Linked DNA regions of Homo sapiens: region 1 is reported to be linked to region 2. Evidence: microRNA targets listed by miRTarBase, many of them from high-throughput screens and not tested one by one. Region 2 holds a microRNA gene; the other region holds the end of a gene's coding sequence.

The links. Region 2 holds the annotated microRNA hsa-miR-369-5p (AGAUCGACCGUGUUAUAUUCGC, at 2,989-3,010, opposite strand). A microRNA usually pairs through its seed, bases 2 to 8, with sites in the 3' UTR of a target mRNA and lowers its output. Matches are read on the target gene's strand: a 7mer-m8 pairs with bases 2 to 8, a 7mer-A1 pairs with bases 2 to 7 and ends in A, and an 8mer does both.
Region 1: miRTarBase lists RBM39 as a target of hsa-miR-369-5p. The part of its 3' UTR that is shown has no 7-base or 8-base seed match.

Annotation. Positions count from the first base shown.
Region 1 is chr20:35,700,219-35,705,218 of GRCh38, forward strand. RBM39 (RNA binding motif protein 39) reads right to left here. Exons shown (of 17, transcript NM_184234.3): 16 at 4,450-4,528; 17 at 1,129-4,363. The coding sequence ends at 4,263. It overlaps ROMO1 (reactive oxygen species modulator 1), which reads left to right. Exons shown (of 3, transcript NM_080748.3): 3 at 580-762. The coding sequence ends at 688. Among named protein-coding and RNA genes, the nearest start is that of ROMO1, 3.3 kb to the left of the region's middle. RefSeq lists an enhancer at 1-20.
Region 2 is chr14:101,063,096-101,068,615 of GRCh38, reverse strand. MIR369 (microRNA 369) reads right to left here and starts at 3,018; the gene lies at 2,949-3,018. MIR541 (microRNA 541) reads right to left here and starts at 4,121; the gene lies at 4,038-4,121. It overlaps MIR409 (microRNA 409), which reads right to left and starts at 3,316; the gene lies at 3,238-3,316. MIR412 (microRNA 412) reads right to left here and starts at 3,169; the gene lies at 3,079-3,169. It also overlaps MIR410 and MIR656.

The sequences.
Region 1 (5,000 bases), not on the chromosome of region 2:
AGAGATAAAGCAGTTAAACTTTACACTCTAAAGGTCATTTTCACATTTAGAGGCTGTTATTGCCATATCCCTAGATTGTAAATTATCATTTACAGAGCACTTACTCTATGTTAAGCACTGTGCTAAATACTGTAGTTTTCAAAATCCTGTAAATAATGTTGAGATGCCCATTTTACACTTGACACTATGTGTAAATTGTAGAGCTGACTCTTGAACCCCCACCTTACTCCAAAATCATTAACACCAAGAAACTAAAAGACAGATGTCTTTATTGGGTCTTAAACTGCAGGCAACACCAGTCAAAAAAGCTGGTTTCTCTATGTATTTTACACTGCATCTGCTGCCTCCCACAAACTGAAGGCAGTTAATACGACATCCACCAGAAAAATACCCTGGAGACCCAGATGGATCTTTTTCCTTCTCATTACCCACCCCAGGTAGTAAGATATAATATCCAGTAAGTGGAAAATCAGATGTAGGGGTTGCTAGACTAGTGTTAGCAAAAAATTGGAAAGGAGCAGTTAATACTCTTTCTGATATTTTTGTTACCAAATAGCTCCATCTTGGTTTCCTCCTCAGGATCGGAATGCGGGGTCGAGAGCTGATGGGCGGCATTGGGAAAACCATGATGCAGAGTGGCGGCACCTTTGGCACATTCATGGCCATTGGGATGGGCATCCGATGCTAACCATGGTTGCCAACTACATCTGTCCCTTCCCATCAATCCCAGCCCATGTACTAATAAAAGAAAGTCTTTGAGTAGTCAGTGTCCCTCTCTTAAAGGAATATTCTTCTCTCAGCCTATTATCCAGCTTTGCCAAGGATCTTCTGCACTAAAGAGATGGACTAACGTAATGACTAGGGTTAGTATCTCTTTCACAAGGCCTGCCTCTCTTAATCCAAAATTGGAAAACTTGGGAGTGTCTAGTATTTTCCATAGATACTATTCAACTAATTACTCAGTACAACTCTGTGCTTGTTACTACGGTCACCATTTTAAAGGAGAAAAACTACTTCAAAAAATGGATTTATAAGCCGAAATTTCCTCAAGGTCACACATTGCATTATTTCCAAAGCAATGTTCATCCTGAGGTTGGTTGTTTCCTTGGTCGCCCAGGTTGGAGTGCAGTGGCACGATCTCGGCTTACCGCAACTTCTGCCTCCTGTGTTCAAGCGTTTCTCCTGCCTCAGCCTCCCGAGTAGCTGTGATAACAGGCACGTGCCACCATGCCTAGCTAAATTTTGTATTGTTAGGCTGGGCGCGGTGGCTTATGCCTGTAATCCCAGCACTTTGGGAGGCAAAGGCTGGTGGATCACAAGGTCAGGAGATGGAGACCATCTTGGGTAACACGGTGACACCCCGTCTCTACTAAAAATACAAAAACTTAAGCCGGGTGTGTTGACACGCGCCTGTATTCCCAGCTACTCGGGAGGCTGAGGCAGGAGAATCGCTTGAACCCAGAAGGTGGAGGTTGCAGTGAGCTGAGATCGAGCCATTGCACTCCAGCCTGGGCGACAGAGCGAGACTCTGTCTCAAAACAAAAAAAATTTGTATTCTTAGTAGAGACGGGGTTTCACTGTGTTGGCCAGGCTGGTCTCAAACTCTTGACCTCATGATCCACCCGCCTCCGCCTCCCAGTGTTCACATATACAGGCATAAGGCACCACGTCCAGCCCGAGGTTGTTATTTAGATATACCTAGTGGCTTTATCAGAAAAAGCAAAACAGTTCATCCACTGTAAAAAAAAATAGAAACTTCTGTAGCTTCTCAACTGGCTAAATTCCAGATGATTTTCTAACCACTCATCAACAATCTATATAGCTTGCCCTCCACAAAACTTACTAGTTTGATGATAAAAAGCTTCTGTAATGAGGCAGTTGTCCATCTCACCTGCCCAGGCCACGCAGACCCTGGAGTTACTAACCCGCATTGCCCATTAAGCATTTCTTAAACAGAACTTTCAAAGATGGTAGTAATTATTATAAAGATAAAAGAAAACTAGATGAACACTTTGGAACACTGACAGGCAGGAGGAAATTAAGGACATTACCAGATTAGTTACAGATTTTCGAACCAGTGGGATGCTGACTCAGGAACTGATTGGACATAAACAGTTTCACTCAGAATGAGCTGTTTTCTATGCACGACACTATTCAAGTTACTACACTCCAACCACATTTCCTCTGAACATTATTTACACACCAAATTTCACTCTGGTAGCAACTAAATTTTGGCACAGATGAGATTAACCACTAAAGGCCACATTTGCTGGTCCAGTTCCCTAGAAAGCAATGACACAACAAATTTGTTAGGAAGACTTGGTTCAAGGGGAAAAACTGATAGCAGGAGATACTTTGGAAAAAGAGCACACTGACAGAGTGTCTCTGCCCCAAAGAACTCTGCAGTCTGGTATTGAAAAGTAAATTTTCAATGAGGCTGGGCGCGGTGGCTCATGCCTGTAATCCCGGCACTTTGGGAGGCCAAGGCGGACAGATCACTTGAGGTCAGTGTGAGACCAGCCGGGCTAACACCGTCTCTGCTAAAAATACAAAAATTAGCTGGGCACGGTGGTGCGCACCTGTCCCAGCTCTTCAGGAGACTGAGGTGGGAGAATTGCTTGAACCTGGGAGATGGAGCTGAGATCACATCACTGCACTCCAGCCTGGGCCAAAGAGCAAGACTCCATCTCAAAAAGAAAAAGAAATTGAACCTTGGGAGTTTCCATACAAATTAAATCACTAGAACAATTATTGGGATAAATGTCAAACAAAACGACTGATATGAAATTCTGAATAAGCCTGTAAAACTTGTGCTTCAATGCTAACAAAAAAAAAAGTTGAACAAATGAGGTAAGGAACTCAGTATTTGAAGATAAGCTAGGAGCAGCATTTCCTACTCAAAAGATTTACCAAGAGATAAACAGTTGAAGAGAATTGAGTATAAATGGTGACAGCTTGCTTCCCAACTAGTATGAAAGCTCAAAACCCCTTAATACAGTAATATATGCACCTTATTTAATATATTAATATATAAATCAATTTTGGAAACCAGTTTGAAGTTAAGCCATTTTGTTAAGTATGTATTGTAAATGGTGAAAATTTCTTCATAAATATGCCCAGACAATGCAGGAGACCAAGAATGCCCAGGTTTTAAGGCCAGGCTGTTTCCTTTTCTTTTTGGTAAACCCCTCAGTTTTGATACATTCTTCTAAAATACACAGGGCTAGACTCTAATAGAATAAAGGAATTCATGGGGGACAACGTGAGGGCAAGTTTCCGCAGACTCGGAACATTTTCCCAAGAGGCAAGTACTGAATTGAGACTAAAAGAAGCTAATTCTGTTCTCAAATTTCTGTAACTTTAAAACATTTGAAAAATGAAGATCTCCTGTGGCCTTTTTAAGAGACTTTTATTTGAGTGGTTCTTACAAAGATTGTTGCAATATGAAAGTCATTTGTTTGATAGAAATATCAAGCTGTCTTGTCAAACACACTGAAGTAACCCAAAAATATATTTCAGAGCTCACAGAGCTTAAAAAGAGCAAAGATTATATGCAACCAGACAAAACCTATTTCTGCATTTCCTATTTCTTTCTCAGACTGCTTTGCCTACCAGACTCTCACGTTTAAACATCTTCAGGAAATGCAGGGATCATTTTGTTTGGAATTTTAAGACACACCAGAACACATAGTATTTACAAAGAAACTTTTACAGATACATTAATTGAAAAGATACCATCAAGAAATATAATTTTGAAATCTCCCTTTCTTGCCAATTGATCAGAATGCAAGATGAGATGCTAACCAAACAGCCCTTTAGCTGTCTTGTATTTCCATACACTAAATGTGTATTTCAGAAACTGCTCAACCATCAGCCAAATATCAACATTAGTGAAATGTGAAATGTAACCACTGTGTAAAAAGTTAGGCTTCTGAAACATTAAAAACATTACATCCCTGGTCTGCCTTTTTACAGAAAGCACATTTGTTCTCCTAGAGCTATTCCTATAGTTCATTAATTTTCTACATGAACATTTTAAAAGGCAGAACAAGAGAACAGTTTTGTATACAGTGGGATTTACTATTTAGGGAGAATGAGCACACTGCATTCCTGTTAACATTTTTATTTTTTCAAGGTAACAGGAAATTGCATACAAATGACAGTAGATCCTTGCCTCTTTATTTTTATCTAAATAAAAGATAACTCAAGATGAATTCTCAAGAAAGAAAAAAAGCTATATACATAAGGGACTATATCTTCCTTCATCGTCTACTTGGAACCAGTAGCTGTGTTGCTGTCATAGAATCAGGAAACAGGTTGTGGTAAGTTGGAAGAGGTACATATGCTGCTGTTATCATTTTACCTATTAAAAGAAACAGACATGTTGGGTTTAGCATCTTCATTATAGAGCCTTAATAACAATCAGTCAAAAAATAAATTCAAACTCACCAGCAAACCACCTGCCATGCAATGCATTGACAGCAGCAATAGCTGCAGCAATTGATGGGCACTTCACATACACATTGCCCTACAGAAAAAATGAAAAAAAAGGTAAAGATGTTGCTGTATGCAAAATGGACCCAAGTTATGTTTATTCAAGTTGCCTGTAGAAACTTAGTGCTCTATAACCACAAACTGGTTTACCATAATGGTTCCACTGGCTAATAGGTATACTAGAATTTTATTAAAAAATGACTTCTACTCTCAAATTTGCCGTTTTATCTTTTCTCTACGATTTGTATGCAGCCTAAGAATGAATCAAGATGCCAAGATTTCATGGCAAGCTTTGAGCATTACTAGAAATCCTCTCATACCCTGATCAAATTGTTACTGATTTTCTTTTATTTTGGAGGGTTTATTTAGCCACTATATTAAAGCTACTTTCAGGCACACACACACAAAAACTATAATGGAAGACGGTTAACCATAACATGCACCACATAATGTGCGAAGATTAAGGTAGAGACGAACAACCTAACATCATTTATAAAAAAAGATGA
Region 2 (5,520 bases):
CCATTTAGTCAGCCCCATGCATAAAATATGAGCCCTAACACCACGCTCCAGCCCGTTGCAGATGGAGTTCCCCAGAGCATTTGGCTCTCAGCGCTGGGGCGTTTGCTGGAGGGGCGGGGGCGCGATCAGTCGGCATCTGCAGGGGAACACAGGGCCTGTCACTTCCTCTGGGGCTTTGGTGCCCCCACCCCCCGACAAGTGGAAGAGAGAACCCAGACCCAACTGACTCGTGCCTCCTGCAGCTAATCTCAGCCTCATCCTGGAAGGGCAGAAAAAGCTAGAAAACCAAACAGCTTTGAACAAATGGGAAGAATTTCTAAAAATCAATTAACATATTCATGTACTCCATCACCACATCTTATTGACTGCCTGCTTTGTGCCCAGCACCTGCCTGGGAATTCATCTGATCCGGTCCCTGCCTTTGGGGACTCCATTAGTCAATCAACAAACACTCACTGTTCTGCTACTGAACACAGCAGGGGATGAGAGAGAGAGAGAGAGAGAGAGAGAGAGAGAGAGAGAGAGAGAAATTTCTGCCAATGAGAAATCTCACAGTCTAGGGCACAAAGAAGGTAGACATTAACATTAGGCAATTTCAGAGAACTGTAAGCTAGGAAGAAAACAGTAACGGGGCAACTGGTAGAATGTGATAGGGAAGAGGCAAGGGGAGCTGCTTTTATAGGGTTATCAGGGATGACCTTGCTGAACAAGAGCCATTCCATCCCCTTGGGAATTGTGAACCCCTGGGAAAGGAAAATGCAAAGGATGTGGGCCTTTAAGGAAGGAAGGGCCAGAGCCTGGACAGGAGGCAGCCGAGGGCAGAGCAGGGCGGCCCAGGACCCAGCTCCGGAAGGAGGGGCATGTGCAAGGCCAGAATGAAGGATGAAAACACGTGGGGGATAGGCTGTGGCTCCAAAAGAAGAGGGGGGCTGCCACTCTGAGGGCCTGGGGGGTCCTCGGATCATTTTGGTACCAAGCCCAAGGGAAGGGGCCTGCAGAGGTGCCCTGGGCAGCGGAGTTAAACAGCTGGACTCTGCACTTGGAAATGCTCTCCCTGGCAGAGGGAGGGGCACTGGAGGGAGACCCAAGTGCCACAGGCTGGAGGGACCTAGCCTGTGGGGCGGCCTCTCCAGCAGGGCTGTGGCCCAGGGGCTGGGGAAGAGGGGTGCTGAGGGAGAGTGGGAGCAGGCAGCCCAGAGGGATGGTGCCAGGGATCCCCACTCCCATGCTAGGCATGGAGAGGAGCGGTCCCGAGGAGGAGGACAAGGGGGAGGGCAGGCACAGGCTGTGACTTCCAAGGCAGCGACGTCTCAACTAGGGGATGACGGGAGCCCAGCTCAGGAAGATCTCCCGAGCCCAGGAGCTCACTGATCAACAATGAGTGATAAAGGACAGCCTTAGCTCATTCTTTGGGGTCACTCCTGAGGTGCTCCTTGCCTTCAGCCCTGGACCCTGGGCATGGGCAGCATGTTCTGGAGTCACTAAGTCTCCAGGTCAGCTGCAAACAGGCCTCTGGTCATCTTCCTGTAGTCTGGGCAGGCCAGGGGTGCAAATATGACATAAGCATCGGGTAGCTGAGAGCCAGCCCAGCCTGGGGGATGTGCCAACCGGAAGCAAGGGCATGGCGGGTGCTCCCGCTGACACTGGAATTGGGGATGCCATTCTGTCACACTTCCAAAGCCCCCCAGAACAGAGTGGAGCTGGAAAATTAACAGGCCAAGTGACACAGGTCCTACACAAAGTCCACAGGGTCAACCAGCGCAGAGCCAGCTGCTGCCTGGAGTTGACAGCAAAGAGGAAGGCATCCAAGGTGGGATTCGATATCGGAAAGAGGTTGACTGTATAATATTCATCATATAGAAAGTGAACACCTCACAGGCAACCTATTTCAGGTACCACTGAGCAGCACTGACTCCAGGGAGGAGGCTTCTTCCACAGGGAAGGGCCCTGCCACCCACCCGCCTCCAGGATGGAGGCCAGCACAGGGCTGCAGGTGGAAGTCAAGCGCGTGCTCGGCCACCAGCCATGCCTCTGGGGGCCCACAGGGCGCGCAACCGGACCTCCCCGACATCAGCAGGTGCAGGAATCATGCAGGTGGGATCTGATACTGAAGAGAGGCCGCTCGTGTCTTGTGTGTCATGATTTCTGTGAATGCAACACAGGCCACCTCTCCTCAGGCACCACAAGGAGCAGCACACGCACACGGCCACCCAAGGCACCAGCTCCCACCCAGGGTCTCACAGCACTGAGATGAGCAGAAGGCAGCCCAGGTGCAGGGAATGCATGCAGCCGCCCCCAACATCCTGGCGAGGGGTGGGTGGCCTTCCAGCAGGATGCCTTCCAGCGGGACTAGCTCCCCCGTGTCCTCTGCCTCGATGACACTGGCCATGAAAAACAGACTGAGCCCCGTCACCATTGCTCATCAGCTTCATGACCGCCCCCCACCACAGTGCACAACCCTAGCATCTTCCCCAAAGTCCACATGGCCCCCCGAAAGCTCTCCCAAAATGATTCAATGGCGGGGGTCAGGGGAAAGGATGACAAATGTCACACCAGCCCATGCATTCACGTACCCTGGAAAGTCCCGCCTCAGGCGTGGCGCCCGCACACCACCGGGCGGTAGCGGTACTGAAAACAGGCCATCTGTGTTATATTCGTCATTAATAAAAGCGAACTCATCACAGACAACCTCTTCTCAGGTACCCAGAGTGCCATCGGCTCAAGAACGTGGCTGCCGCGTCCCGTGGTGCCAGCGCTGCCCCCGGGAAGCAGTCCTGAGGACGGATGGGACATCAAAGGTGAGAAGACACAGAGACAGGAAAGAGACCCCTGCCCGGCCCACTCTCGGTGACCAGGCCCCACTGAGGCAGCGACTCCAAAGCACCCGTCCTGCTCCTACCCTCAAAAGGGCTTCATCTCCAACGGGTCCTCCAAGGTGAGATTTGATACTGAGAAAAGATCAACCATGTATTATTCGAAGTCAATAAAGCGAATATAACACGGTCGATCTCCCTTCAAGTACCAGGAAAGGCGCTGAGCTGAAGCGCGATCGGCTCCCCGGCCCGCAGGCCCCACAGGCTGCAGCGGATACGGACGGCTAGTGGACCAGGTGAAGTACATTAGAAACAATTACTTTCCAACTGGTCGACCATCCATCCCCGTACCCCAGAATGGTGCTGATGCCGGCGTCCTTCCCCGAGGTGCCCCAGCCTCCAAGACGGCCTCCCTGGTGGAATTTGATACCGAAAAGGGGTTCACCGAGCAACATTCGTCGTCCAGATGCAAAGTTGCTCGGGTAACCTCTCCCCGAGTACCATGGAGAGGCTCAGATGCTCGGACTAAGGTGAATGCTTGCAGGCGGCTGTGCTTGCAGAAGACCCTCCCCCAAGGGCAGCACAAGGTCTGGGCATTCAGAGCCCAGAGCCTCACACTCTCCAAGGACGTTCCCAATCACCAAGTCCAACGATTCCAACCCCTTCCAGAATGAATCTAGAGACTCTTCCCAGAAGTTGAGTGCAAGACCCAGGTAGGATCTTATACTGAAAAGACGGCAACCTTCCTTGGGCACCTTGCTAAAGATGAAAATGAAACCCTGCTCGCACCCGCTTTTCATTCCCAGACCCTGAGAGGGGGTGACCCTGTAGGGACCCCTGCACAAGCACAGAGCCTCCCTCCCAGCAGAGGATTCCTTTGGCGGGAGCTCAACGGGGCACAACGCTGACCCCAGACCTGCGGTCTCACCAGCACCATCTCCAGCCCACAGAGGCATCACCCCAGGATCCCTCAAAGAGTAACTTCACAGTTATCAACAGCTGGCTGACCATCTGATTAGCCTCATAAAGCAAGTGAGACATTCAAAATAAGGGACTGGGGGGATAAATGCAGCAGAAGAAAGCAGGTGAGTCACAGATGTCTTCTCTTCACAAGGGTCAGGGCAGCCCTGACCTCAGAACCCAACCTTCCCCAGACTCAGAGAACACCCAGAAGGTGCCTCCTGGAGCGGGCAGCCAGCAAGCATCGGGCCAGACGATGGATGCCACAAGCAGAGTCCAGATTCTGTGCCCACCACCCATTCTGTGAACTTTGGAGTGGGACCGACAGCAGAATCCTTTCCCTGACGTTGGCATGAGCTCAGAGAGCCCTCTGCGCCTTGCTACAAGTGGAGCAAGAGGCCAGCCATGCGAGGCCTGCTGTAAAGAAAGAAAAGATGTCACAGACGACTTCCCTTCAGGAGCCATGGGCACTGACCTGCATCAGAGCCTCCTTCCTGGGGCAGGCATCACCTCCCAAGGTGGTCCCGGAACGCACCGGAGTCAGCAGGAGTGGAACAGATGACATGCACCGTGGGTACAATCGGGCCTGTCCCATGGGCGGCCCTCAGGCACCTGCCCTGGAGAGGGCTCCGGCTGCAGGCCGCCTCCTGAGGGTGCTGTTGCTTCTGGAAATTCTCCAGGTAGGGTTTGATCTGAAAAGAAAGCCATGTGCAATGCTGGTCACCAACAAAGCAGGCCAGCAAACAACGAGCTCTTTCCACAGCCCCAGCAAGGTTTTTGACCTTGGAAACATCAACTCCAGAATGACTTTCAGCCTCTATGACCAAATGACATTCGGCACCAACGAAGGGCACGTCCTTGGGGCCAGCATGGAACCATGTAAGGTATCAACAGCAGAGTCTGAGGAAGGACTGAACCCCAGAATGTTCCTGGATGCCTGTGTGTTCATCAATAGCCTTGGAAGTGTGAAAGGAAAGTTATCTCGGGCCCCTAAAATCACTAAGGAAAACTCAAGCTGGAAGCTGCTCAGGATAAACCTGCCTCTCATTCCATTCAAAGTCATCCCTCTGCTCACTGAGACAGATGCGTATCTGATTTGCCTCCTTTGGAAAGGCTCATGAGAAACGCGAAAGAATGTAATCATTTGTGTATCACCTGTCTGTGACCTGGAAGCTCCCTCCTTCCTGCCTTCGCTTCAAGTTGTCCCACCTTTGCAGACAAAACCAATGTACTTCTTACATGTGCTGAATGATGTCTCATGTCTCCCTAAAATGTATAAAGCCAAGCTGTGCCTTGACCACAGTACTTCCTGAAGCTGTGTTACGGGTGTATCCTCAACCTTGTCAAAATAAACTTTCTAAATTAACTAAGAGCTGTCTCAGATTTTCTGAGTTCACAGAAGCAACTGTCCTGAAAGACCAGACCCCACTGACCGTAGAACTTCTGCTTCCCTCCGGAGTCAGCGTCTCACCCAGAACCCTCCGTGGGGATGGAGGGAGACCAGGTGATGCCTGTCACTTACGTATGAATGCTCTGGGGACAACATGCACCCAGATCCCCGGGAGGACGCCTTACCAGTGTGTCACGCCTGAAGTCAGCACACCTTTCCGGGAAGCTCTCGGGAAGGTTTGGGGCAGCAAGAAAAGATCAACTGCATAAAGGGGGAGACTGTATCCCATTTTTTGACCCTAGGTTCCTACTGACCCCACCAACTCCACTGTAAACACGCACAAATGTAACCACCTTC